Homo sapiens: one gene and its partners. The protein of the gene in region 1 purifies or fractionates together with the protein of each later gene. This does not show direct contact. Each region holds a gene or a part of one and is shown in the gene's direction. Other genes may lie near its edges. The genes, in order: MYLK4, MTHFD1, TARS1, MDH1, ESD, LETM1 and RDX.

Region 1 (3,500 bases):
TTCAATATAGACCAAGGAGAAATATCTACAGGCAAAATTAAGTGAGACATGACTTTCTCATTAGGGTTTTCAGTGGTACAAACAGGATAATTTTTTCTGTTTATTAATTTCGGTAGGACAGAGAAGACAAAATATTCTTCTTGGAGAACTTTGAAATCATCAACTAACTGTAATAGTTTATATGAATTTCATTATCTTTCAAGTACTGTTTTTCTCCAAAATCTATGATACAATTTTTATAAATGGGCAACACTCTAAAGAGTGAGATAAGCAGGACACATGGCTCATACCTGTAATCCCAGCACTTTGGGAGGCTGGGGCAAGAGAATCACTGGAGGCCAGGAGTTTGAGACCAGCCCAGGTGACATGGTGAGATGTCTATTTCTACAAAAATAAAAAAATACAAATAAAATAGCGGGCATGGTGGCACACATCTGTAGTCCCAGCTACTTGGGAGGCTGAGGCAGGAGGATTGCTTGAGCCCGGGAGTTCAAGGATGCAGTGAGCTATGATCACACCACTGCACTCCAGCGTGGGCAACAGAGGAAGACCCTGTTTCTGAAGATAAAAAAAAAGAGTGCGATAGTGCTAAGTTGGAACATAAATATATGTAGGGATGTTACTTTTGTGCAGCCAACTACATCCAGAAGTTGATGATTTGGAAGTTAAATATTTTTAGGGTGTTTTTGAGGGAAAAATTGAGACTGCTATTTAACCCCTAGAAACCATCAGAGAATGTCCTTTATAGTAAGTCTCATATCCCTTCTGTAACTTGGGCCTCCTGGCTTCCGTCCTGCAGTTGACACCCTGTGGAAGGTGGGAAGGAATCACTAGGAGCTCCATGTGTCCCATTCAATTTCTTACTTGTAAATGGAGAAGGGCCTAGAGATGTCTGCAATAAATTTCCCTGTCTCTCTCCGTCCACGTGGAGAATGGATAGGTGCATGTGTCAGAGGCACAGAGTTCTCCTTTCCATGGCCTGGAGCCCCTGCCTGCCTAGTTGGTGGGTGCCAGGGCAGCCAGCAGGCTTGGCAGCGGGTGGGTGGAGAAGGACATTCCAGCAGCTCAGATGTCTTCAGGTATGCAGACAGAGCTAGATTAACACGTCTTCATCTTCTGCTGGGGCAGCAGTAAATCTTTAAAATGCCACGCTTTTCTCTCCAGGGACTATAAAAACATGCTTGTCGATTTTCTCCACCTATTCCCCTTTCTCTCTCATCCCTTCTCTCTTTGAGGGGATTAGCACGGCTAATCATAGTAGAAACATCCCCTGTGGTGCACTGGAAAGAATGTACTCTGAATTTCAGACTCTGGTGACATGAAAGCTTTGTTCTGGAAGCTTGCAGTGCAGTTTCTTTAGAGTCTGGAACTACTCTCCAGTCCCAATAGGGGAAGAATTTTATATAGATTTAACAACTTATATTTGTTAAAATAGTTTGATAAAACTCAGATTCTTTTTGTTTTCCTGCTCTTAATCAGATTTTTCTATTTCTTTTATTTTTCTTCTACTGAATTCATTTTTAGCCATCTTCCTTCTTTCCTCTATGTTTTACTGAGTTTATGAAACACTTCATAGCCTTCTTTTCTTCCTTCTACTTAAGTAGTTCTTGTTCTTTTAATTTTTCTTTCTTTCTTTTTTTCTTTTTTTCTTTTTTTGAGACGGAGTCTTGCTCTGTCACCCAGGCTGGAGTGCAGTGGTGCGATCTCAGCTCACTGCAACCTCCGTCTCCCAGGTTGAAGCAATTCTCCTGCCTTAGCCTCCTGAGTAGCCGGGATTACAGGCGCACGCAACCACGCCTGACTCATTTTTTTTTATATTTTTTTTTGTATTTTTAGTAGAGACGGGGTTTCACCACATTGGTCAGGCTGGTCTCAAACTCCTGACCTCATGATCCACCTGCCTTGGCCTCCCAAAGTGCTGAGATTACAGGCGTGAGCCACCGTGCCCGGCCTTGTTCTTTTAATTTTTCTTGTTTGTTTGTTTCTTTTTTTTTTTTTGAGACAGCTTCTCACTCTGTCGCCCAGGCTGGATTGCAGTGGTGTGATCTCAGCTCACTGCAGCTTTGACCTCCCTGGCTCAAGTGATTCTCCTGCCTCAGCCTCCCAAGTAGCTGGGACTAGGCATGCACCACCACCCATGGCTACTTTCTGTATTTTTTTGTAGAGACAGGGGTCTCCATGTGTTGCTCAGACTGGTCTTGAACTCCTGTGCTGAAGTGATCCTCCCACCTTGGCCTCCCAGAGTGCTGGAATTACAGGCATGAGCTGCTGTGTGTGGCCTATTTTTCCTACTTTCCTTTTTATTCTGTTTTCTAATGACTTTTCTTATTCTATTATGTTCCAAAGGCTGTTCAAAATCACCTAAATTCTACCTACTGTGTAAAATTTTAAAAGTTTTCAGCAGATAACCATATGCCATAATAAACTAGATCTAAACATACGTACACGGTGTGGTGTTGAAATCAAGTAAAATTTACAAGACCAAATTGGTCTGACTCATATGAGTGATGAGCTCGATAGCTACTGTGTCCATACCATTAAGTTATAAATGATGAACAGGTTTCATAACTATAATTAGTATTATTTTTGTACAGTTGAATCTGGGTTTTTTTTCTTTTGTCAGTTCTCTGTTATCTATATAGTAAATAGCCCTCGTGTTGTATTTCCCCCAGATTTACTTGAATATTTAGTAGGATCTCTGTCTCATATACACCCCCACACCCCTTTGCTTAATGAAACACAAATGTGCCTGGTGATATTCTCAGCCAACCATTCGGCCCTGCGTGCTTCTCACTGCTTTCCTCGGTGTACCACCCCCATCCCTGCTCCTGAGGCCCGGGGTTGTCTGTGCTCTCCTCCTCCTCCGTTGGTTTTCCCCACCTGCCTGTTCACCCCTAGTTACTCATCCTCCATCCAAAAGGCATGGTCCCAAGTATAAAAGTAGGACACAGGTTGTGAATGCTCACTCTACAAAAATATGTCAGCATAGCCCACCGTTCCACATCCGCGCCTGGAAGACCCCTAAGCAAATCATTTCTGAATTTATCCTAACCCTTGTTGATTTGTGTTTGAAAGCCTTCCTTCATAGGGAATAATTCCTTTTTAAAACCTGGCTTAAGTTCTTCCATATCCCAACCAGGGGGTATCCCAAAGCTGTGGGGGTAGAAACAAGCATGGCCCCAGCAGACTCGGGACCCCACTGTCCCTGGAGTGTTTAAATGCCCGGTACAAATGCTCCCAAGACCAAGCAAAGCAAAATATTTATTAACAGGATGTGCAGAGGGACAGTGGGTTGGAGTAAAGTGTGGATTTTCCTATTTTGATTGCAGTTGGTGGATTTAACACCAGGTGGCATTTCCTGACCATCTGCTGTGAAATTGTACCATCAGCACCATCCGTAATGACTATAACTTAGATCTCAAAATAACAAGGCTGAGGGCAGAGGTTTTGTGATTTTTCAAGTTGCATTTCGCCACCTCCATCCCTGTGCTCCTCACCCT
Region 2 (3,087 bases), on another chromosome or scaffold:
AATCAGTTTCTTTTCTTTTCCTTTTTTTTTTTTTTGAGATGGAGTCTTGCTCTGTCACCCAGGCTGGAGTGCAGTGGCAAGATCTCGGCTCACTGCAACCTCCGCCTCCCAGGTTCAAGCGATTCTCCTGCCTCAGCCTCCCAAGTAGCTGGGATTACAGGCACACGCCACCATGCCCAGCTAATTTTTGTATTTTTAGTAGAGATGGGGTTTCACCATGTTGGTCAGGCTGGTCTCAAATTCCTGACCTCAGGTGATCCATCTGCCTTGGCCTCCCAGAGTGCTAGGATTATAGGCATGAGCCACCACGCCCGGCAGGGATCAGTTTCTGAGTTTTTTAACAGGATCAGTGACTTGATTTTTAATATGTAACAAGAGTACCCACTTTATTGACAACTATAAAATGATGTTCTATCTTTATGCCTTGGGCTTTCTTTCTGAAGGAAAAGTGAAAGTAAAGATGACTTTACGTTTATTTTAGACATGGCCTTGCTCTGTCGCCCAGGCAATCGGATGATCATGGCTCACTGTGGCCTCAACCTCCTAGCCTCAAGCAATCCTCCTGCCTTAGCATCCCAAGTAGCTGGAACTACAGGCACATGCCATCATATCCAGCTAATTTTTTATTTCCTGTAGAGATGGGGGTCTCACTATGTTGCCCAGGGTGGTTTAGAACTCCTGGCCTCAAGTGATCCTCTCCACCTCAGCCTGGGATTATAGGCGTGAGCCACTGTGCCCAGCATTAGTTTATTTGTAATGCTTTTTTACATCCTAGATGAGCACAATGCCTGGACTCCCCACCCGGCCCTGTTTTTATGATATTGATTTGGACCCTGAAACAGAACAGGTGAATGGATTATTCTAAACAGGTAAGTTGTTACTGGGTAATAATTTGGCTTTTTTCCTCATGTAGCTTATTTATGAATTATAGGGCTCAAACTGACGCTATAAAAATTCACATTCTAATGCTTTCAAAACATTTCTTTTCAGACTTCCCTGAGGGGAGAGGGGATAGTAATGAGAGTTGGCAATAACCAATGAATTGAAATATTTATATTTCAACACATTTTTGGAAGAAGCGCAGCATGGCTTGTCACAGGTTGACAGTGTAGGGGAGAAAACTGCTGTCCAATAAACTACAGAGGAAACTACAGGAGAGGTTAGACTCCCTCTGCTGAAGCCCCAGGAGGCTTGGGGTTCAGAGTTGATGACACATTGCAGGTCAGGAACAGCTGACGGTCTGTATACTCTGAATAGGTAGTTAGAAGGCAAGAATTAGCAAATGTCTTAGGAAGTATAATAGAAAAGAGAAGGAAACAGGACCAATCTGGCAGTTCTTAGGGCCTTAGGTGAAAGGGCCCTGAGTACCGACTGCAATGAGTGACATTGCATTGTTTGATATTTTTGAAATTTCAACAGGACGTGTCTCTCCTTAGGCAGACCCTTGGGGCTGAAGCAGCAAGTTGCAGTGTGCACTTATATCCCTAGACACATCCTGTTGAAACTGCAAAAATATCAAACATGAAAATCCTAACATCTTTCTCCAGAGACGAAAAAAGTGGCTTGCCTATGAAAAGAATGAGAACTAGACTTAACGCCCGTCTTACTGGCAATAAGAAGCTTTTAGACAATGGAGGAGTGTCCTGTAAGGTCACAGGGAAGATGACTTTCAACATGTGCTCACACCTAGCCGAATCTATCTGGATATTTTCAGACGTGCAAGGGTTTGCCACCCCACATCTCTTCCTAAGAAGTTATTTAGCAATGTACTTAGCAAAATGAGGAATTAACCAAGAAAAAAGGAAGACGTGAGTTTTGGGAAACTGAACCCTCATTTGGACATTAGCGAAGGGGCATTCTGATAACCATGCAAATGACCTGAAGTTACAAATCCTGTGTGGAACAGGTTGGGGGAGCACCTGAGAAAAACTAGAAAAAGCTAGAAAAGACAAGGATATCAAAGGGTCATAGTATAAAACAAAAGCTCTTGCATTATTTGAGAAAGTTAAGGTCCAAGTAGAAGCAAACTGTAGTTTGATGCTAGAACACTATTCTTTGAGAGGGTATGTGTGATACTCGAAATGCAGTCATGGCTCACGGCTTGGTCTGGTCTTGAACAGTATTCACACAGTACTATGGAAATACCATGCATCATTTTCAAGTCCATTTATGGACACGCCCTAGAAGAGCTGGTGGCAGGAAAGGATGTAAATGTTAACAGCTTTGGCAATGTGAGTGGGTAATGGTGCAGTATGGAAGGAACAGGAAACATTTCAGTGCTTGCTTAGAGAAAACATTTATTTCTTGTTTTTCCTTCCAGATCACCATCCATCTTCAAGAAGCTACTTTGAAAGTCTGGCCAGTGTCTATTCAGGCCCACTGGGAGTTAGGAAGTATAAGTAAGCCAAGAGAAGTCAGCCCCTGCCCAGAAGATCTGAAACTAATAGTAGGAGTTTCCCCAGAAGTCATTTTCAGCCTTAATTCTCATCATGTATAAATTAACATAAATCATGCATGTCTGTTTACTTTAGTGACGTTCCACAGAATAAAAGGAAACAAGTTTGCCATCTTGGTGTTGCAATATGAATTACAGCCTTAACAGACTGTGCCACAGGTCTCTGCCATCCTTTGTGAGCTCATTTGTCAGGCAGACCCTTGGGCTGAAGATGCAAGTTGCAGTGTGCCCTTTATGATACTGTTGTGTTTAGAGGGAAATGTATGCATGCTTGTGTATTTCTGAGAGGACACATAATTCAGGGGACCTCCTGAGAGGGTTGGGTTGGAAGTTGATGACTTACCTTTTAATCTTATACCTTTCTATATTGTTGAATTTTGTTTTTCTACCCTGAGGAAGTATTGCTTATACAAGTTTTTGCCTGAACTTCCTTGGAATTCCCATTTCTGTCACAGCTTTAGCACTGTCTATGTTTAGAGTGCTCAAGAAGGATGGTCATGCAGCATTAGCCTTAGGTGAGCCTCTATTCTGTTGGTGCAGCAAGTATTCATTGAGTTTCTTCTAAATGCCTGGGCTCCACCCTTCCCTACAGACTTTTTATTTTTATTTTTATTTTTTTGAGACAGTGTCTC
Region 3 (3,622 bases), on another chromosome or scaffold:
CTGAGGCAGGAGAATGGAATGAACCCAGGAGGCGGAGCTTGCAGTGAGCCAAGATCATGCCACTGCACTCCAGCCTGGGTGACAGAGCAAGACTCCATCTCAAAAAAATAAATAAATAAAAACAAATAAATAAATAAAAAAAATGAAGTGAACACTAAACCATCTAATAGATAAACCATTCAGACTATTCCTGTTACTGCACTCAGTAGTTTTAGTTACAAATGATGACAATCAAAGTTATGTTCCATGGTTGAGTGCACTTTGTCTTATTTGTATGTGAAAACTCACACAGTAGGAAGAAGTTCTGTATTGGTTAACTGAGTTCTCAACTGGAGACAGCACTGACTTCCCCATTTCCCTTTGCGGGTAGGTGGCATTCCAGATTATGTGGTGGTAAGCTTTTCTTTTGCGGGGAGAGAAGACAGGGCAGTACTCCTGATACCTAATAACTATAGAGCAGACATGTTAAACACCCTGTAATTATCAGGCCACTTCCCCAACTGCAGAATTGCCCATCTCACGTGCACACACAGGACCCATGTTGAGAAAAATGAAGAAACTGATGCCTTATTCTTTAAAGTAGTTATAAGTTGAAGATGTAGACCTATCTTGGCATTCTAAAATTCTGTAACAACCCTTCTGAAATGGGTGTAATAAAATGTCAACAGGTTAATTGGTTCGTGATCACTGTGGCTTAAAAATCTAGTTAAAATGCTAAGACTTGTGCACAGTATAGGCAAAGTCACTTAGATTGTTTCAAAAAGTATGCCTTATAGAAATAAACATTTGACATACATAAATAACCCTTGGTTTACACATAACTCGCATTTGAGAAATGAATGTGTTGTAGATCATTTAGAATCTTTTTCAATCAAAAATTGAAAGAAATATTTCGTCACCCAGGTCAACCAGAGATTGCTGGTTTTACTCATGATACTTAAGTAGAGTATGATAGTTACTATTTCACCTTCAGCTGTACTTAAGATGTTTTCCTGGAAAAATTCATTCTGCTTTCTGACCAGGATTTCCAGAAACTCTGACCCTTCTAAGAGGTCTGGGTGGAATTGTGATGGTGATTCTGCTAGTAGACAGTGTAACTTCTGCGTCTACAAAAAGAGGATAGGCCGTCACTGCTCACATGGCTTTGCGTGAAAGCCCAATGGTACTGTCTCTATGGCAGAGATGAGGAAGGAACACCAGCGTCCTCCAACTTTCCTGTTCTTCCTTTGGGTTAATGGCCACTGTAAGGAAACAGTTTTCTGCCACGTGTGGGGTGATTTGAATGTAAAATGCCCAACTCTCATAGCAGGCTGAACAGAAACATTTTTTATACTCATTGTTAATTTGTTCTAATCTAAATTACTTTTAGACTATTAAATATTATTCTATTTTAAAGTTAAGGGACTAATGCCTCTGATAACCTGATTAAAAAAAAAAACTTTCTGATACTCAGAAGTTAAGATTTATTCAGTTGAAGATCATTTCTTTCAGGTGTTGATCGTGTGATATTTTTCACATCTGTAATCTGAGGTTCATATGAAATGATAGTGAAATAAAATTGTTCATTTAGGTCTTTTTGTCATGTTAATATGTTATCAGGTTAATGGGAAGTTTAATCTAGTTAATGTAAAATTAATAAATTGTAATCTAGTTTATTGCTTTTTTGGAAAAGAATACTGAAAACATTGTTTACTTAATACACATGACCTGAGGTAATAAAGAGGAGCTGGCCTTTTTGAGGGGGGAATAATGGCAGTGAATAATATTATCTAAGACAGTTTTGCCAGCTTTAAATTCCTGGAAGTTCATCCAAGAAGTCCTGATCCCTGTGTTCAGTAAAATCATGTGAGATCAAAATATAATTCTGATTTTAGATCTGACAAATTCTGTATCTCTGTTACAATAGGTACGACAACAATTCCACGATGCCAAATTCATGGCAGACATTGATCTGGATCCAGGCTGTACATTGAATAAAAAGATTCGAAATGCACAGTTAGCACAGTATAACTTCATTTTAGGTAAGAATGGAAACTTACCAAAGAAAATTTGCCACACCTCAGGAAAATCTACTGAAACCTTGAGACAGGTTTAAGTGAATTGTAATCAAGAATTTATTTAGTTCCTTCCAGTCCTGATTTTTTTTCTATTATATATTTTAATATATAATAACTATAAAAATAGGCTCATGCATACATACTGGGTTTTTTTTTTTTTCACTTAAATCATGGATGTCTGTGAGAAAATATTTTGCTATTATAACAAGAATGAAGACGCATTGCTTTTAAACACATCTATTGGATTACTTTCTCAAGATAATGCCTTATGTGGGATTACTTGAAAAAAGATATTCATGATGTTTGGGGTTTTATTATTTGGTTGTTACGTTGTCTAGATTGACTCCATAAGCACAGTAGTTTTAGATATTGCAAAGAGTTTCTTTTAAATATCAACACATGGTCACTTGTACCTTTTAATGTATCAGAAGCTATGGGGTAGGTTTTGGGTCCTAGGATCATTTCTTTTCAGATGTTCAGTGTGAATTCTTCCATATCTTTAGATTAAGTCTGACAAAGCTTTGTGTGTTTGTTTTAGTTGTTGGTGAAAAAGAGAAAATCAGTGGCACTGTTAATATCCGCACAAGAGACAATAAGGTCCACGGGGAACGCACCATTTCTGAAACTATCGAGCGGCTACAGCAGCTCAAAGAGTTCCGCAGCAAACAGGCAGAAGAAGAATTTTAATGAAAAAATTACCCAGATTGGCTCCATGGAAAAGGAGGAACAGCGTTTCCGTAAAATTGACTTTGTACTCTGAAAACGTCAATTTATATTGAACTTGGAGGAGTTTGGCAAAGTCTGAATAGGTCAACCTGCAGGCGTAACTATTTTTGACCTAGTCAGTTTTTAAACAATGTGCATTTGAAGGAGTTAATTAAAAGAGAGCCAATAAAATGATTTTACTCATTCAGTATCTGAGTACTGGAAGTGAAACATGAGGAATGCTTTAGTGTAATGTGGGAGAACTTTTTTGTAAATTTAATGCAATTGAAAAAGTTTTCAAATTCAATTAAGATAACTAGAATTGGATTATGGTGTAAAAATAAAAAAAAAATTTATTCACATAAGTTTCAAGACTGCTCTGTCCCTCACATGTACACATACATGCCTGAGACAGATAATGTGGTTCAGTATTTATCTTTACAGTTTTACAGCAAATATAATGCAGGGTGGATGGAGACGGGGTAGGTCTGCAGCATCATAATGCTATTCATAAACTGGGTGTGAGCTGGGTGCTGGCTTCTCAGAGGATAAACACTTTTGGGAGTGTCATTTTTACTTAATGTTGGATGGACACCTTTTCAAACAAAAACTACCATGGATCTATTACAGAGTAGATTTGCACAAATGTTTAAGATAAAACGTGAATCTTCAGAGAAATATCTGTTTATGGCAGACTGTTCTGGACCATAGAATCACTTGGTTTACAAATTCCCTATTTTCTCATAAGGGATCATTTTCAAAATCTTCTACCAATAAATGGTGATTGAAAGGACAGCACAAAGTAAATAATTTCTTATGTGGATAAATACTAATTCCTCCTTGTTAGAATGATATTTTAA
Region 4 (3,500 bases), on another chromosome or scaffold:
TCTGATATTATTTCAAAATTTTTTATTACCATTTTATAAAAGATTTTTATAACTTAAAATGCATTTTCCTATGCTATATTGTATTTGGTGTTTCCCAAGCCTCCCCTGTACAAAGGCTACCTGTTAGACATTTTCAGTCAAATTTTAACATAGATTAGTTAGTAACTATATAGTCTGTAACTCTTCAGTGCCTTCCATTCCTCCTAGGTTATTGTTGTGGGTAATCCAGCCAATACCAACTGCCTGACTGCTTCCAAGTCAGCTCCATCCATCCCCAAGGAGAACTTCAGTTGCTTGACTCGTTTGGATCACAACCGAGCTAAAGCTCAAGTAAGAAAAATATATTTTAAATCTTGTGGTTGTTCAACTTTAAAACATTTTTCTCTCACTTTTAAAATAACTGAATCTGAGTTTGTGCTTTTTTCTTGTTTTTGTTTAGTAGGAACCTATTACTTTTATTAAATTAAAAGTAAATTATTATTCATTTGTTAGGGAGTCTTTAAATGTATTCTCTTAAAGGACCAGAGGCTGGACTTCCTACTTGATTTCGTCTTTAACTATATTTCAATTGCTAACTATAATGAAATGCAGTTACTAATGTTCTCTTGTTACAGTGGTTAAAAATTAGTTATACATGATGGTACATAATTTAGTTTAATTTTTTCAGATACATATAATCTCATATAAACAAAGACTTGAGCTTTGTGTGATTGTGTGGTTCTGCTTCTATTTTAGCTGCAGCTAAGCCATCAAATTCAGATTTTAATTTTTAATTTTATATTTAATTTTCATTTTATGTCTTTTTAATATTCTATGTGTATCTGTAAAATTTCCTCCTTTCACTACTTAGGAGCTAAAGTCTGTTGCTAATTTTCTTTACTCTTAGAGCCATAGATAAGTATGCCAAGGAGCCAGTGACCAGGGAATTAACAATAGCTTTTCAAAAAATTAGAAGCCAGGCAACTGATCTGAGCTAGTTTCCTAGGCTTTTTCAGATCTAACTGGTCCTGGTGCCCGTTCTTGGACAGAACCTCTTTCCTTTGCCCTAATGCTTTTCTGGCCATCCCTTCTTGTCTGTAGGTCATCACTGCTAGATAGGTCTATGAGTTCAGTGCTTTTTCTTCTAGAGAAGATAACTTTAGTTTCAAAAAAAAATTGTTGTTAACCAGAAGATGCTGTGAGGTCTAAGCTGAAGCACTACTGCCCTAACCTGAGAATTAATAATCCTTCAGCTCTGGAATGCCTAGTGAAAGAGAAAAGAATATACATTTGTTAAGCATCTACTGTAAATTGAATGCTATACATGTAATTTTCCATTTAATTTTTATAGTAACCATATGGGTATCTCATATTATCCCTGCATTAGGTAAGAAAACTGAGGCCCAGGGAAGTCAGAGAACCTGCTCAGAGTCATACAGCTCATAAATTACGGAGCCACCTTGATTTGCCTGACTCCAAACCCTTATGTATGTTCTTACCTAATGGTATCAACTAACCTTAGTCCACTTACTAGCTCTGTGATTTTGAGAAAGTATATTCAATGTTTAAAATGTAATAATTGTATCTACCTCAGAGAGTTCTTATGAGGATTAAATAAGATCTGTTTTAAGCCCTTAGCATGGTGCCTGCACATAGTAAATACAAGAAAGGTTGGCTGCTATTATTAGTTGATTTCTTCTTTCTAAGAAGCATACAGCCTAAACATTCCTAATTTAGAGGGTTGTTGGATAACAACCCTTAAATTTTTAGCTTAAAGTGCAAATATTCCCTGAGAGGCTATAGGCTGTGAGCTGGGTCTGGTGGTAGCTGAGAACGAATAGGAGTTTGTTTGAATGGCAGGCAGTTTGAGTTCTGTGGGACAGTTGTAAAGGAAGAGATATTATACATGTTACAGTTGCAAACTCTGGATTGCCAGAAAGTGACTTATTTAGTTCCTACAACAAGAAAGTTCCTACAACAATGACACTAACAACCACTTTTTGTTGTTTCACCTGAGGCTTTGGTGGAGACAGGCATTGGAAAATTCTGCTTCCAAAGGTACTTCAAAGAGATACTTTGTCCTGGTGCCTGAAACAGTTCTCACTGCAGGGCTCAAGTCTGAATGAGCAAAGAGGAAAGAAAGTGCTATCTCCTCAGACTTTAACCTTCACTTGGGGACATGTTCTTTGTTACTCCTGGGACCTTGGCTAGGCATTGTTTCAGCATGTCAATCTGGCATAGTGAGAGCTTTTAGGGAGTCATTGAAGAAGCACTTTCTTCCTCTAGAAGAAGTTGTTTATCCAGTGAGAAAAATAACAAACCCAAAGATAAGTTTTTCTTACAGGACTGGTTGCTAGATATTTTTGTCTTGGAATTCAGAGGCCTTAGCGACTTAGGGACTGTTTAACACCTGCAGAACTTGCCTGTGTATTTGCAAACCAGTGCTGTATTTATGTCTGCTGATAAGGTAATTTGACATTGATACCAGATAAGGTAATTTGACAATGATACCAGTTAGCTTGTAAGAAAATTACTAGGGCTGGAGAATTAATCAAAAACTTTTAACAGACCTATGTGACAGACATGAGTGTCTAAGGGAGCAAAGAGCTGTTATCCTGGGTATGTATTAATTTAGACTAATTGTGACATGAATCATATTAAGAAACTATATCTGCTGGATGCAAAGTACCTGGCCTTTGCTGTCCAGACAGAACTGGATTAGCTCAAGAGATAGAAGGAGCAAGAGGAGGAGGGCAACAAGAACAAAGGAAGGCATGGGAGCCAAGGAGGACTGAGGGTGGAGAGGCCTAGAGGCATTTTGTCTTCACTGTACTTGGGAGCATTGAAGCAGACATTCAGGGAAGTTATAGGCTCTAACTTCCTGGTAATATATATCTTGAGTTAATTGTTCAAGGTATAAATTTATCTTTTTCTATATACCATACCAGCTAAATTTAAGTATAAATATAAGAGCAGTTTCTTCCCCAGTTCTTTCTGGTCATGGCAGACGTAAAAAATGGTACTCATTGAACAGCGTGCCACTCTACCCTATCCCACAGGCTAAGCAGATCAATAGCTGGGTACCCCAGAAACCCAACTGTGAACTAATTTGTGGAGACTAATGCAAATATTGTAGATAATAGTCCTAATACTTGCAAGACTTGCAGGGATTAGATCGGTCAAAAGTGATTTACAATATCACAAACATAAATTTTTAAGTAAACTTTTAACTATTTTAGGATTTAAGAAAGCAGTCTCAACTAGTTTAAGAGTGGGAGTGAAAGTAAAGACAGTTTACTTCTTACTTAACTGAATAAATTAGTATGAAGACCAGTCGAGTCATTGCAGACATTTTAGGTAATGGCCTTTTTTTTCATCTTTATCCTTTTCGGTTGGTTGGTTGGGGTTTTTTTTTTTTTTTTTTTTTGCTTTTTATTTTGAAATAATTTTAGACTCAAAAGTCGCAAAAAAATAGTACAGAGAAGGCCCATGTACCCATCACCCATTGATGGTACCTTACA
Region 5 (3,500 bases), on another chromosome or scaffold:
ATATTTCCTTTCACAGGCCATATTATACAAAAACAATGCATATCTGGTTAGAAATATAACAACAGATTTAATTCAAAATAATATCAAAAATATAAAATACGAAAATAGATATATAAAAGGGAAACTAAAATTTTGTTATCATAAACGAAGACTTTAATAAATGGGAAAATGCTGTGTTTCTAGATGGATAAAATGAATCTTACGACAAGGTCATGTCTCCAAATTACTCTACGTGTTACTGTAATTCTATTCAAAATCCCAATGGTTGGCTTTTTAACCACATGCAAGTATATAAAATAAAATGTAACAAGTTAAAAAGAAACATAAGAAAATTCCAGTGGAGGTTGGATAGATAGGAAAAATGTGATGGAAAGCATATTAGAAAACATTTTCAGTTCAAGATAGTAAGTTGAGCACAAGCATCTGCCTCCCCACTCCTGTGTAAAGAGAATTTAAAAAGTGCTGATAGTGAGAGAGGGTCATCAGGGAAGGGATCACAACACATTTCTGAAAGATAAAAAGAGGATATAAGTCCTTTTTGACAGGTAAACCAGAGTAAGGAAACATATGTTCAGAGTACATAAGAAACTTCATCAACAAAGAAAGTTAGTGTATCTTACCTTGGCAGCTGAATACTCCAGCTTGGAAGGTCATTTTTTACCTCATTGGCCAGAACGAGTCGCAGGGCCCCATTCAAGGGCAAGAGGAGCAGGAAGTATAATCCTATCATGTGCTCCAAAAGGCAGAGAGCTCACAACATTTGGTGAACAGTTCCCATGCAAATGGACTTGCAGATTCATCTGAAAGTGTGTTATTAAACATGGGCCATTACTACAGAGCAGATGAAACCACAAGATTGTTTCTTGATAGGTGGCTGCAATATTAAAGGTGAAGATGAGAGCTGGGACTTTGGCACTGGTGCTGGATTTTATGTTGATGCCACTGAAGATCCTTGGAAAACCAACTACAGAATGTACTCTTATGTCACAGAGGAGGTAATTTAATTTGTATTGTAATTATTAATTGATGACTGCCAAGAGTTTGATTTTGAACACAAAGTCCTTACAATCCTGAGGATTTTAAACTAGGGTATAAAAGTTACTAGTAAAAATTCCAAAGTTTGCTAGTACTATAGTTCTATTTACTGCAATTTAAATTAACACTAAGTACAATTAAAGAATATAATCATTATATTGAGACCTGTTTATACTACCCAGAATAACCAAGAAAATGGTATATGAAAAAAACCTTTAATTTGCCTGGCAGCTGGTTCATTTGGATGTATTTTATAGTGATAAGCCAAGGCTTAGTTAGAAAACATAAGTGGTAAAGCATTACCTCTATTAATAATATTTGTATGCTGCTTATGCATTTTCTGAATTTTATATGATTTTCATTGTTACTATGTATATCATAAAAACTTAGAAACAATAGTGTAAGTTTTTAATTACCCATAATTCTGTTACCCCCCCAAAACACTTATGTTTTGGTATGTTCCAGACTGTTTCTATGACTAGTTTTCACGTAATTCTAAACTTTTTTATTTTCTTCTTCTTTTTAAGTTACATATAAAAATATTTTCTAGTGTTATTCTGATTTTAATAATTGTGTAATATTCTGTCATATGCCATAATTGACTTTTTCCTCTTATAGAATACTTATGGTTTTGTATATGTTTTTACCCTAATAAATATTACTGCATTGATTATATTTGTGCATAATGTTTTCTCCCTAAGGACTTTTCCTTAGAATATATTCCAAAAAGTGAAATTACTAGGTCAAAACTTAAAAGCATTTTAAAGGTTCTTTCTGCATCACCTTCCTAAAGTGTTTTCTAAGAAGTCTGTACCATATATTTTCCAGGGATATATTAATAATCATGGTCTGCCTGAGGATTTAGTTTTGTTTTGTTTTCATTGTTACTAGTTCAAACCATTGTAAGACTATGATTTGGCAGTATTGATTGTGTAATTATTTTCTGTAACTTTGAAATGTCTGAACTTATTTTCTTTGATATCTTTTGTCACACTATTAAATTTTTTCTAGCTTCCCCAACTCATAAATGCCAATTTTCCAGTGGATCCCCAAAGGATGTCTATTTTTGGCCACTCCATGGGAGGTCATGGAGCTCTGATCTGTGCTTTGAAAAATCCTGGAAAATACAAAGTAAGATTATCTAAACTTCTAGTGATAAATATTTCTCTTGAATAACATAATATTAGGAACCTTCAAAGAGTAAAATTACAATATTGTTAGTATTGGAACTAAACTTTTCTAGTGTTGAGAACTTTGGGGTGTTTGAAGGGTGGGTATTTAATTTGACCATAGAGTGTATGCTGCAGAATCAGACGCATAGGAATTCAGCAAGAGTGCTTTCTTATTGGCCTACTGGAAGTATTATAAAATGTAGCTTCTCCTTTAATTGTTTTTATTCCAACTATAGTTTTGAACACACTTTTTTTCTGTAAAGGTTATTATTACTGATTAATGTTATAGTGGCAGGATCTATCATTTATATTCTTACCAGGGATGTCTTTGTAAAGTTGACTTTGATTTTCTGAGGTAAAAGATATGATTTGTAGAAGCTTAAGAATTGTGTTCTTAATGCCTCTAATGAAAATTGAAATGCAGCTTGATTAAAAAACATCACTCTCAGCCTTTCCCAGAGTCAAATTTGAATAACTACCATATGTAGTATGTCATACTGTGCAGAACAGCATGTTACAAGAGTTGAATAAGGAAGTGTTAAAGCAACTAGCATCTTAAAATTTCTTCTGCCTTTAAATTTACAGGGCTGTTCATGCCCTTAAAATTGGTTTAATTCATTTCCTCCTCTTAGGAAGAACTTGATTATTTTAGGTGTGCTACTGAGAAATGAAAACATTTCTCATAACAGTTTCTTTCTGTGGCATCAAATATTTTGTTTTTGGTACGCTTTATTATCAAGTTTTATTAATTCATGGCCTGACAGTGGGCTTTCTAAGTAAGCACTTTTATTTCCATTTTTTAAGGCAGTCTATCATGTCTGAGGTAGAAAAGCAAACTTAGTTGATTTTTTTGTCCTTTAAAAAAGCTAGTAGATACCACTAAACATTTACATTGATGAGTACTCTGAAGTTGAGAGATCCCATCTCTGCATCTCATCCAGTGAAAAAGAACATTGTATAGAACACAGAGTTGTATTAAAAATTCTGTCATATTGAAATGCATTGCTCACTGCTTTGTTGGTACTGTTTAAGAGAAATGTGTCAGATTTAGTAACATGTTCACTAAGGTAAGCATGAACTGTTTTATATCACTATAGATTAATTTTCAGTGCTAAAAAAGCAGAAACGCTGAACATAGACTTCTGTTTGTATCTTAAATTGCAATGTATTGTTTTGCATTATTTTAGCAACTATACTTATTAGCTCTCTTAATAGAATACACAAAAGATGTATTATGGAAAGGCCTGCAATCTAAGCCAGCAATATATCAAAAGGAAAATTGTTCACAGGGTT
Region 6 (3,500 bases), on another chromosome or scaffold:
CATTTGTTGAAACTGGGGAGGACTTGGGGAGGAGCAGAATGAGGAGGGGCGCTAGTTGAGAGTTCTTGGAGGTGTGGACTGTGCCGTGCCCATCAGACCTGTGGGGCGTGTGTATTCAAGTCAGGGAAGAGATTGCCTGGGGAGGAGGTGGAGGTCAGGTAGGGAGGCTCTCCCAGGAGTGGCAAGGGTGAAGCCAGGTGAAGAAAGGTTTGTTTGTTCTTTGACCTGATCCTGGCACCAGCACTGAGGGCTGAGAACCCTGGAAGTTTCCTGAATGATGGGAGTGTCTTTTTTCATTTGTTTGTATTTTGAGACAGGGTCTTGCTCTGTCACCCAGGCTGGAGTGCAGTAGCTTGATCATGGCTCACCACAGCCTCCAAGCGATCCTCCTGCCAGCTGATGTTTTAACATTTTTGTAGACAGGGTCTCTGTTGCTCAGGCTTAACTCCTGAGCTCAACAGCGATCCACCTGCCTTGGCCTCCCAAAGTGCTAGGATTACAGGCGTGAGTTTGGGAGTGTCTTCTGTTATTCGTTATCACTGCACCTGAGTTTATGCTGATGAGGTGACTCCAGGCAGGCCCTTAGATAGATTGAGGTGCTGGCCATGCTGTGATTAGAGGGTGGGAACTTCCTGCCCCTTCCAGGGAGGCGAGAGGGTTTGGAGATTTAGTTCAGTCCCCATGGCCAGTGGGCCAATACTGTAATCAGTCATGAAGCCTTGATGAGAACTTCTGGGTGAGGAGGCTGGTGAGGCTTCCCACTGGCGTCCACCTAGCTCCACAGGACAAAGGATCCTGTGCTCGGGACCTCCCTGGCCATGCTGTCTGGTTGTTCCTAGGTACCAGGTACCCTTTATAATAAACTGTGACAGTAAGTAGAGCCCATTGCTGACATCTGAGTCATTCTTGTGAATGATCAAAACCAAGGCGGTCATGGGAACCCTCAAATGTGTGGTCAGCTGAAGTTGGGTAAGCCTGGGCACATGGAGTGGGGGCAGTCTTGTGGGACTGAGCCCGTACCCTGTGAGGTCTGCACTAACTCTGGGTAGTGTCAGTATGGAATTAAATTGTTGGACTCCCAGTTGGAGAATTCGTTGGTGTTGGAAAAAAGAACAGAAGGGCTCCCAGCAGGGCCTGGGCACAGATGACACCTGTGCTCGTGAGGGACGTGGAGCAATGATCCCCATCACCCCGAACGGCCTTGACTGGGGGTTCCTTGGAGAGCTGGGGACAGAAGCCGTCAGAACAGGTTTTGGGGAGAGCCTAGTAAGGGAGCCAGTGGGACAGGCAGTGTTAGAGAGAAGGTAGGGTCACTGGGGGACAGATCAGGGAACTCTGGGAGACCTGCCAGCCTGCCTGCTTGCCGGGCGGAGCCCTTGAGGCACAGGAGCTGGCCGGGGCAGGGGTGGAGGGGCTGAAGGTGCCATGGTGTGGGGAGGATAGCGGAGAATGCGCTGGGCCCTCTTCATGTGGAGAAAGGTGGGGGCCAAAGCTAGTCTCAGCTGGAGTGAGAAGGGCCTTGGCATGCTCACGTGTGCTGTGCTTTGAATTTTAACTTAAAATGTAACTTGCTGTGTATGAGAACATAGCCAACATTTTCCCCTTAACCCAGCTCCCAGTTCACAGACCGGACTGTTACAAGCCCTAAATGTGGCACGTAGTAGGAATTTCCTTCCCCACAGAACCAGGAGAGTTGCCTCCTGTTAAATGAGGTGAAGTGACGTATCGGTCCACTAGGAGCAGGGTCAGTGCCTGCCCTCCCCATCTTGTTCGTCCTCTCACGGTGGCTCTCGTTGCCGGCTGGAGTGAGCTCCCCCCATCTTAAAGCTGCACTTGCTGCTCCCTGGCTGTTGACTCATTGCAACCCCACTGCTTGGAGGTTCAAGGTCACTGGGCATCTCAGGGTGCTACCTGCTGGCTCCCGGCACCGCCTAGCCTCTGCACAGCCTGGCCTGGCACCTCCGTGGGCTGGTGCCTCTGGCCCTGCTGCTCCTATTCCTGTCTTGTTCCCAGCATGAAGTTTGATCACAATGGGCTCTGAATGTCAGTAATACGAATGAACTCTGACTTTATGCTTATAGGAACTAGAGCAAGTTAGGGAAAGCATCAAAAACATGTTGAAATCCTAAAAATGTGCTGTACACTTATCACTGTTGTTTATACAAGAAATGGCTTACTCTTGGTGTTTTTGTGGTTCTTCTCTTTTTTTTTTTTTTTTTGAGTGCAATGGCGCGATCTCAGCTCACTGCAACCTCTGCCTCCCGGAGGGTTCAGGTGATTATCCTGCCTCAGCCTCCCGAGTAGCTGGGATTACAGGCACCTGCCATCATGTCCGGCTAATTTTTTTTTATTTTTGTGGAGATGGGGTTTCACCATGTGGGCCAGGCTGGTCTTGAACTCCTGACCTCAGGTGATCCACCCGCCTCAGCCTCCCAAAGTGCTGGGATTACAGGCGTGAGCCACCATGCCCGGCCTGTGGTTCTAGTAATTCTTTTTTTTTTTTTTTTTTTTTCTGAGACAGAGTCTTGCTCTGTCGCCCAGGCTGCAGTTCAGTGGTGCGATCTCAGCTCACTGCAAGCTCCGCCTCCCGGGTTCACGTCTGTGCTGGGATTACAGGCGTGAGCCACTGCGCCCGGTCCGGTTGTAGTAATTCTTACAGCTCTTGCCCCTTGGGATCATTGCTTGCTCTATAGGGCTGTCTGCATAGAGGTCATGTTTCCACCAGAGCCAGCTGAAGTGAGTGGGGATGGTGCCACCGGTAGGAGTGCTCCCTCCCTAGGGCTGGCCTGCTTGGCTTCCCTCTTGGGGTGTCTGGAGTCAGGATCTACTTGAGGCTTCCCATCTTTTTTTAGGACTACTTTGAGATACTGTTTTCATAACTGGGGCAGACCCTTCACTTAGCAGTGCTCTGAAACCTTCCAACACTCAGAACTGGCTTCCAGAAACTTACAGAGGTTTCTACAAAAGAGATCTGTACTCTTTCAGATTTTTTTTTTCTTTTTGAGACGGAGTTTCACTCTTGTTGCCCAGGCTGGAGTGCAATGGTGCGATCTCAGCTCACTGCAACCTTTGCCTCCCAGGTTCAAGCTATTCTCCTGACTCAGCCTCCCAAGTAGCTGGGTTTACAAGCATGTGCCACCATACCCGGCTAATTTTGTATTTTTAGTAGGGATGAGGTTTCACCGCTGGTCAAGCTGGTCTTGAACTCCTGGCCTCAGGTGATCCACTCGCCTTTGCCTCCCAAAGTGCTGGGATTACAGGCGTGAGCCACGGCGCCCCGCCTTCTTTCAGACTTAAAAGAAGGTTTCAGGCTGGGAGTGGTGGCTCACGCCTGTAATCCCAACACTTTGGGAGACCAATGCAGGAGGGTCGCTCGAGGCCAAAAGTTGGAGACCAGCCTAGGCAACAAAACGAAACCCCGTCTTTACAAAAATTAGCCTGGCCTGATGGTGCACACCTGTAGTCCCAGCTACTTGGGAGGCTGAGGCAAAAGGATCCCT
Region 7 (3,500 bases), on another chromosome or scaffold:
AATTGAGTAATCAGACTATTATGGTGGAATTTCATTTCATATAAGGATTACCTTTTGTTTTATAATCAGAATTACTTTAATTTTTTTTTTAAATGTTAAAGAATAGGAATGCTTTATCTAAACAAGTACAGCATTGATCTTTCAGTGTTAAGCCAGATTGCTGTTTGGTTGAGCAGCAGATGAAGTAATTGGCTTACATTTCATAACTCATGTGATTGAAAAAAATCTCTTAAACACTACAATAACACACAAGCACAGTTTATTTTAAATATGGGTGTGCTCTAACCTACTCTATTTAAAAAGAAGGAAGGTGGCTAAATGCTTTAGATAGGGTTGCTTGTGGTTGCTAGTGCAAATGCCTATTTCAAGATTTGTTCCTTAATTTTGTAGGTCAGTTGTTCCTTCAGAGTTGATATTCCATGGAGGACTAATTCAAGCCATGTTATCTTAAAATGAGACTTAGTCATAAAGTTAGAATACCATTTTTTTTTCATTTTCTGTTTAGAACAGAGAGGATATTTTCACAGTGATTGGCTTATTCCAGTATGGTATATCGGACACTTTTTCTCAGTATCTAAGTACAGTCTGGGGAGGAAATGAGTAATTAGGTTATTTGGTGATAACAAATCAAATAAAATAATTTAGTGATTCTGATACATTCTGATTTCTTGTATTGAAAAACCCAGATGAGCAATCTGTTCTTACTGTAGAAAAGTTTAGCTCTTGTGGTATAGATAATTAGCTCCACCAGATAGTATTGCTTCCCTTTGAAAAGAGCTAAATATACATAAACTTTTACATACCAGGTTTCTGACTTGGGCGGCTGGGTATTTGGTAATACCTTTTATCAAAATGAGTGGAAGAAAAAATACATTTGAGGGGGAAGATGAATTCAGTTTTGAACCTATTGAGTTTGAAATATGTGCAATATAACCAAGAGAGATATCTGGTATTTATTTGCATATGTGGGTGCAGACCTTTTAGAAACAGTCTTGGACTATAGATACAGTTTTGGGAGTAATCAGTGAATAGATGGTAATTAAACCATGAGAATGAAAGAGATCAACCTACCAAGTACATAAAAATGAGAAAAAGACCTAGGACAGATCTTGTTGGACCTCAGCTTTTGTCTTTGGGTTCTGCATTCACAGAGTCAACCAACCACAGATTGAAAATATGTGAAAAAAATAACACAGCAATGAAAAGGTACAAAATTTTAAAAATACAGGATAACAATACATAGCATTTGTAGTGTATTAGTGTATTATTATACTACATAGTAGTAATAATATAGTGTATTAGTATTATTAGCCTAGAGATGATTGAAAGTATACAAGAGGATGTGCATAGGTTATATGCAAATATTGCACCATTTTATATCAGGGACTTGAGCATCCACAGTTTTTGGTATCCAAGGGGAGTCCTGGAAGCAATCCTTTATGGATATGGAGGGACAACTGTACTGAGACACTGGCCACAGATTCAAGAATAATTCTATACTAGAAGATGGCTGGGCATGGTGGCACATGCTTGTAATCCCAGCTACTCGGGAATCTGAGACCTGAGAATCACTGGAACCCGGGAGGCGGAGGTTGCAGTGAGCCAAGATGGCGCCACTGCACTCCAGCCTGGGCGACAGAGCGAGACTCCATCTCAGAAAACAAGAATAATACCAGAAGAGTATTATATCATGGAAGCCAAGGTAAAAGAATACTTTGATGAAGAGAATGGTCAGCACTGCCAAATGGTACCAAGAGGTCAAATATGAGGAGAACTAAAGTATCTGTTGGAATAAGGAGCTTGGTAGTGACCTTAGAAGAGCAGTTTCCAGCCGGGTGTGGTGGCTCACACCTGTAATCCCAGCACTTTGGGAGGCCGAGGTGGGCGGATCACCTGAGGCTGGGAGTTCAAGACCAGGCTGACCAACATGGAGAAACCCCGTCTCTACTAAAAATACAAAATTAGCCGGGCGTGGTGGTGCATGCCTGTAATCCTAGCTACTGGAGAGGCTCAGGCAGGAGAATCGCTTGAACCCGGGAGGTGGAGTTTGCAGTGAGCCGAGATCATGCCATTGCACTCCAGCCTAGGCAACAAGAGCGAAACTCTGTCTAAAGAAAAAAAAAAAAAGAAGAACAGTTACCATAGAGTATTGGGTGTTTGAGCCAGATTATGGTAGACTGGGGGCAGTGGATGTCAGGTATGGAAATTGAGGTTAGTGTATAATGGACAGTCCATAAAAGAAAGTTGTCTCTGAAAAAGAAAAAAAAATAGGGGTTGGGAAAAATTGATTAATTCATTTATTCACTCTACAAATTTTCGAGGCCCTCTTTAGTACTGGCATTGGGCATATAATTATGGTAAGCAATTGACTGCACTGGGTTATGTCTCCAAGGCTGATTGCATGCCTCTCTGTGAGCCCAGAGGCCAGACAGCAAGAAAGACAAGAAACTGTGGAAACCTAAGCTCTCTCAGAAGGAAGATGAAACTCTTCTCCCCAAAAGCAAGAGCTTGGAAAAGATGCCTAGAGAAAGGAGCAGAGTATAATAAGAACATAACAGTATGTCTGAGACCCCTTTAAGGAATTTACTCTAAGTAGTAGGTAACTTATCCAGGGGGAGATTTTATCATTCCTTTATGCTGCCAAGAAATCCTTGGGTTTCATGCAAGATTTTTTATATAGTAAAACAGTAATATTTTAACACCACAGCTTCTGCTGTCAGTAAAGTAGGATCTGGTAAATAAAGGTGAATAATTATCATATGAGCCAAAGAGAATAGAAGTCACAAACTGTAGTGTGCATAGTAGGTAACTTATAATCATGTTGACTTTGCTGATTTGGTGTTAAAATAGTAGTAGTAGAATATAATGTTTGTATTTGGCTGGGCGTGGTAGCTCACGCCTGTAATCCCAGCACTTTGGGAGGTCGAGGCAGGTGGATCACTTGAGGTCAGGAGTTCAAGACCAACCTGGCCAACATGGCGAAACCCCGTCTCTACTAAAAATACCAAAAAAACACACAAAAAAGAAAAATTAGCCAGGCATTATGGCGCACGCCTGTAATCCCAGCTACGCGGGAGGCCGAGAGCATCGTGGCACACACCTATAATCCCAGCTACTTGGGAGGTTGAGACAGGAGAATCACTTGAACCCAGGAAGCAGAGGTTGCAGTGAACCGAGATTGTGCCACTGCACTCCAGCCTGGGCAACAGAGCGAGACTCCATCTCAAAAAAAAAAAAAAAAAAAAAAGAATGTATTTGCTCACATTTGAATTAAGAACACTGGAAGGATACAAAAACAAGTTATTTGGGGGGTATTGGACTGGAGTATGACTTTTCACTCTACTTTTTAATTGAAAGTATTACCTACCTAAAACAACAAAATTAGTAGCAAAAAAGTAAATACATAAAGGAAGAATTAGGGCCCAAGAATTCTGGTTTTCAGTCTGGTCTTTATCTATTAACAATGAGCCATTTTTTTATCTAATGTTTTATTCCTTTGA

The links.
Region 2: the proteins of MYLK4 (region 1) and MTHFD1 purify together in Homo sapiens (affinity purification with mass spectrometry; one large-scale study listed by BioGRID and IntAct). This does not show direct contact.
Region 3: the proteins of MYLK4 (region 1) and TARS1 purify together in Homo sapiens (affinity purification with mass spectrometry; one large-scale study listed by BioGRID and IntAct). This does not show direct contact.
Region 4: the proteins of MYLK4 (region 1) and MDH1 purify together in Homo sapiens (affinity purification with mass spectrometry; one large-scale study listed by BioGRID and IntAct). This does not show direct contact.
Region 5: the proteins of MYLK4 (region 1) and ESD purify together in Homo sapiens (affinity purification with mass spectrometry; one large-scale study listed by BioGRID and IntAct). This does not show direct contact.
Region 6: the proteins of MYLK4 (region 1) and LETM1 purify together in Homo sapiens (affinity purification with mass spectrometry; one large-scale study listed by BioGRID and IntAct). This does not show direct contact.
Region 7: the proteins of MYLK4 (region 1) and RDX purify together in Homo sapiens (affinity purification with mass spectrometry; one large-scale study listed by BioGRID and IntAct). This does not show direct contact.

Annotation. Positions count from the first base shown.
Region 1 is NC_000006.12:2,744,423-2,747,922, reverse strand, and holds part of MYLK4 (myosin light chain kinase family member 4), read left to right. Parts: intron 1-3,500.
Region 2 is NC_000014.9:64,457,439-64,460,525, forward strand, and holds the end of MTHFD1 (C-1-tetrahydrofolate synthase, cytoplasmic), read left to right. Parts: intron 1-775; coding exon 776-865; 3' UTR 866-869; intron 870-2,320; coding exon of another isoform or gene 2,321-2,497; 3' UTR 2,498-2,587; downstream 2,588-3,087. UniProt on the Homo sapiens protein: Trifunctional enzyme that catalyzes the interconversion of three forms of one-carbon-substituted tetrahydrofolate: (6R)-5,10-methylene-5,6,7,8-tetrahydrofolate, 5,10-methenyltetrahydrofolate and (6S)-10-formyltetrahydrofolate.
Region 3 is NC_000005.10:33,464,965-33,468,586, forward strand, and holds the end of TARS1 (threonine--tRNA ligase 1, cytoplasmic), read left to right. Parts: intron 1-1,906; coding exon 1,907-2,021; intron 2,022-2,595; coding exon 2,596-2,744; 3' UTR 2,745-3,122; downstream 3,123-3,622. UniProt on the Homo sapiens protein: Catalyzes the attachment of threonine to tRNA(Thr) in a two-step reaction: threonine is first activated by ATP to form Thr-AMP and then transferred to the acceptor end of tRNA(Thr).
Region 4 is NC_000002.12:63,598,963-63,602,462, forward strand, and holds part of MDH1 (malate dehydrogenase, cytoplasmic), read left to right. Parts: intron 1-207; coding exon 208-330; intron 331-3,500. UniProt on the Homo sapiens protein: Catalyzes the reduction of aromatic alpha-keto acids in the presence of NADH. Plays essential roles in the malate-aspartate shuttle and the tricarboxylic acid cycle, important in mitochondrial NADH supply for oxidative phosphorylation.
Region 5 is NC_000013.11:46,780,162-46,783,661, reverse strand, and holds part of ESD (S-formylglutathione hydrolase), read left to right. Parts: intron 1-870; coding exon 871-995; intron 996-2,046; coding exon 2,047-2,166; intron 2,167-3,500.
Region 6 is NC_000004.12:1,849,657-1,853,156, reverse strand, and holds part of LETM1 (mitochondrial proton/calcium exchanger protein precursor), read left to right. Parts: intron 1-3,500. UniProt on the Homo sapiens protein: Plays an important role in maintenance of mitochondrial morphology and in mediating either calcium or potassium/proton antiport. Mediates proton-dependent calcium efflux from mitochondrion.
Region 7 is NC_000011.10:110,258,615-110,262,114, reverse strand, and holds part of RDX (radixin), read left to right. Parts: intron 1-3,500. UniProt on the Homo sapiens protein: Probably plays a crucial role in the binding of the barbed end of actin filaments to the plasma membrane.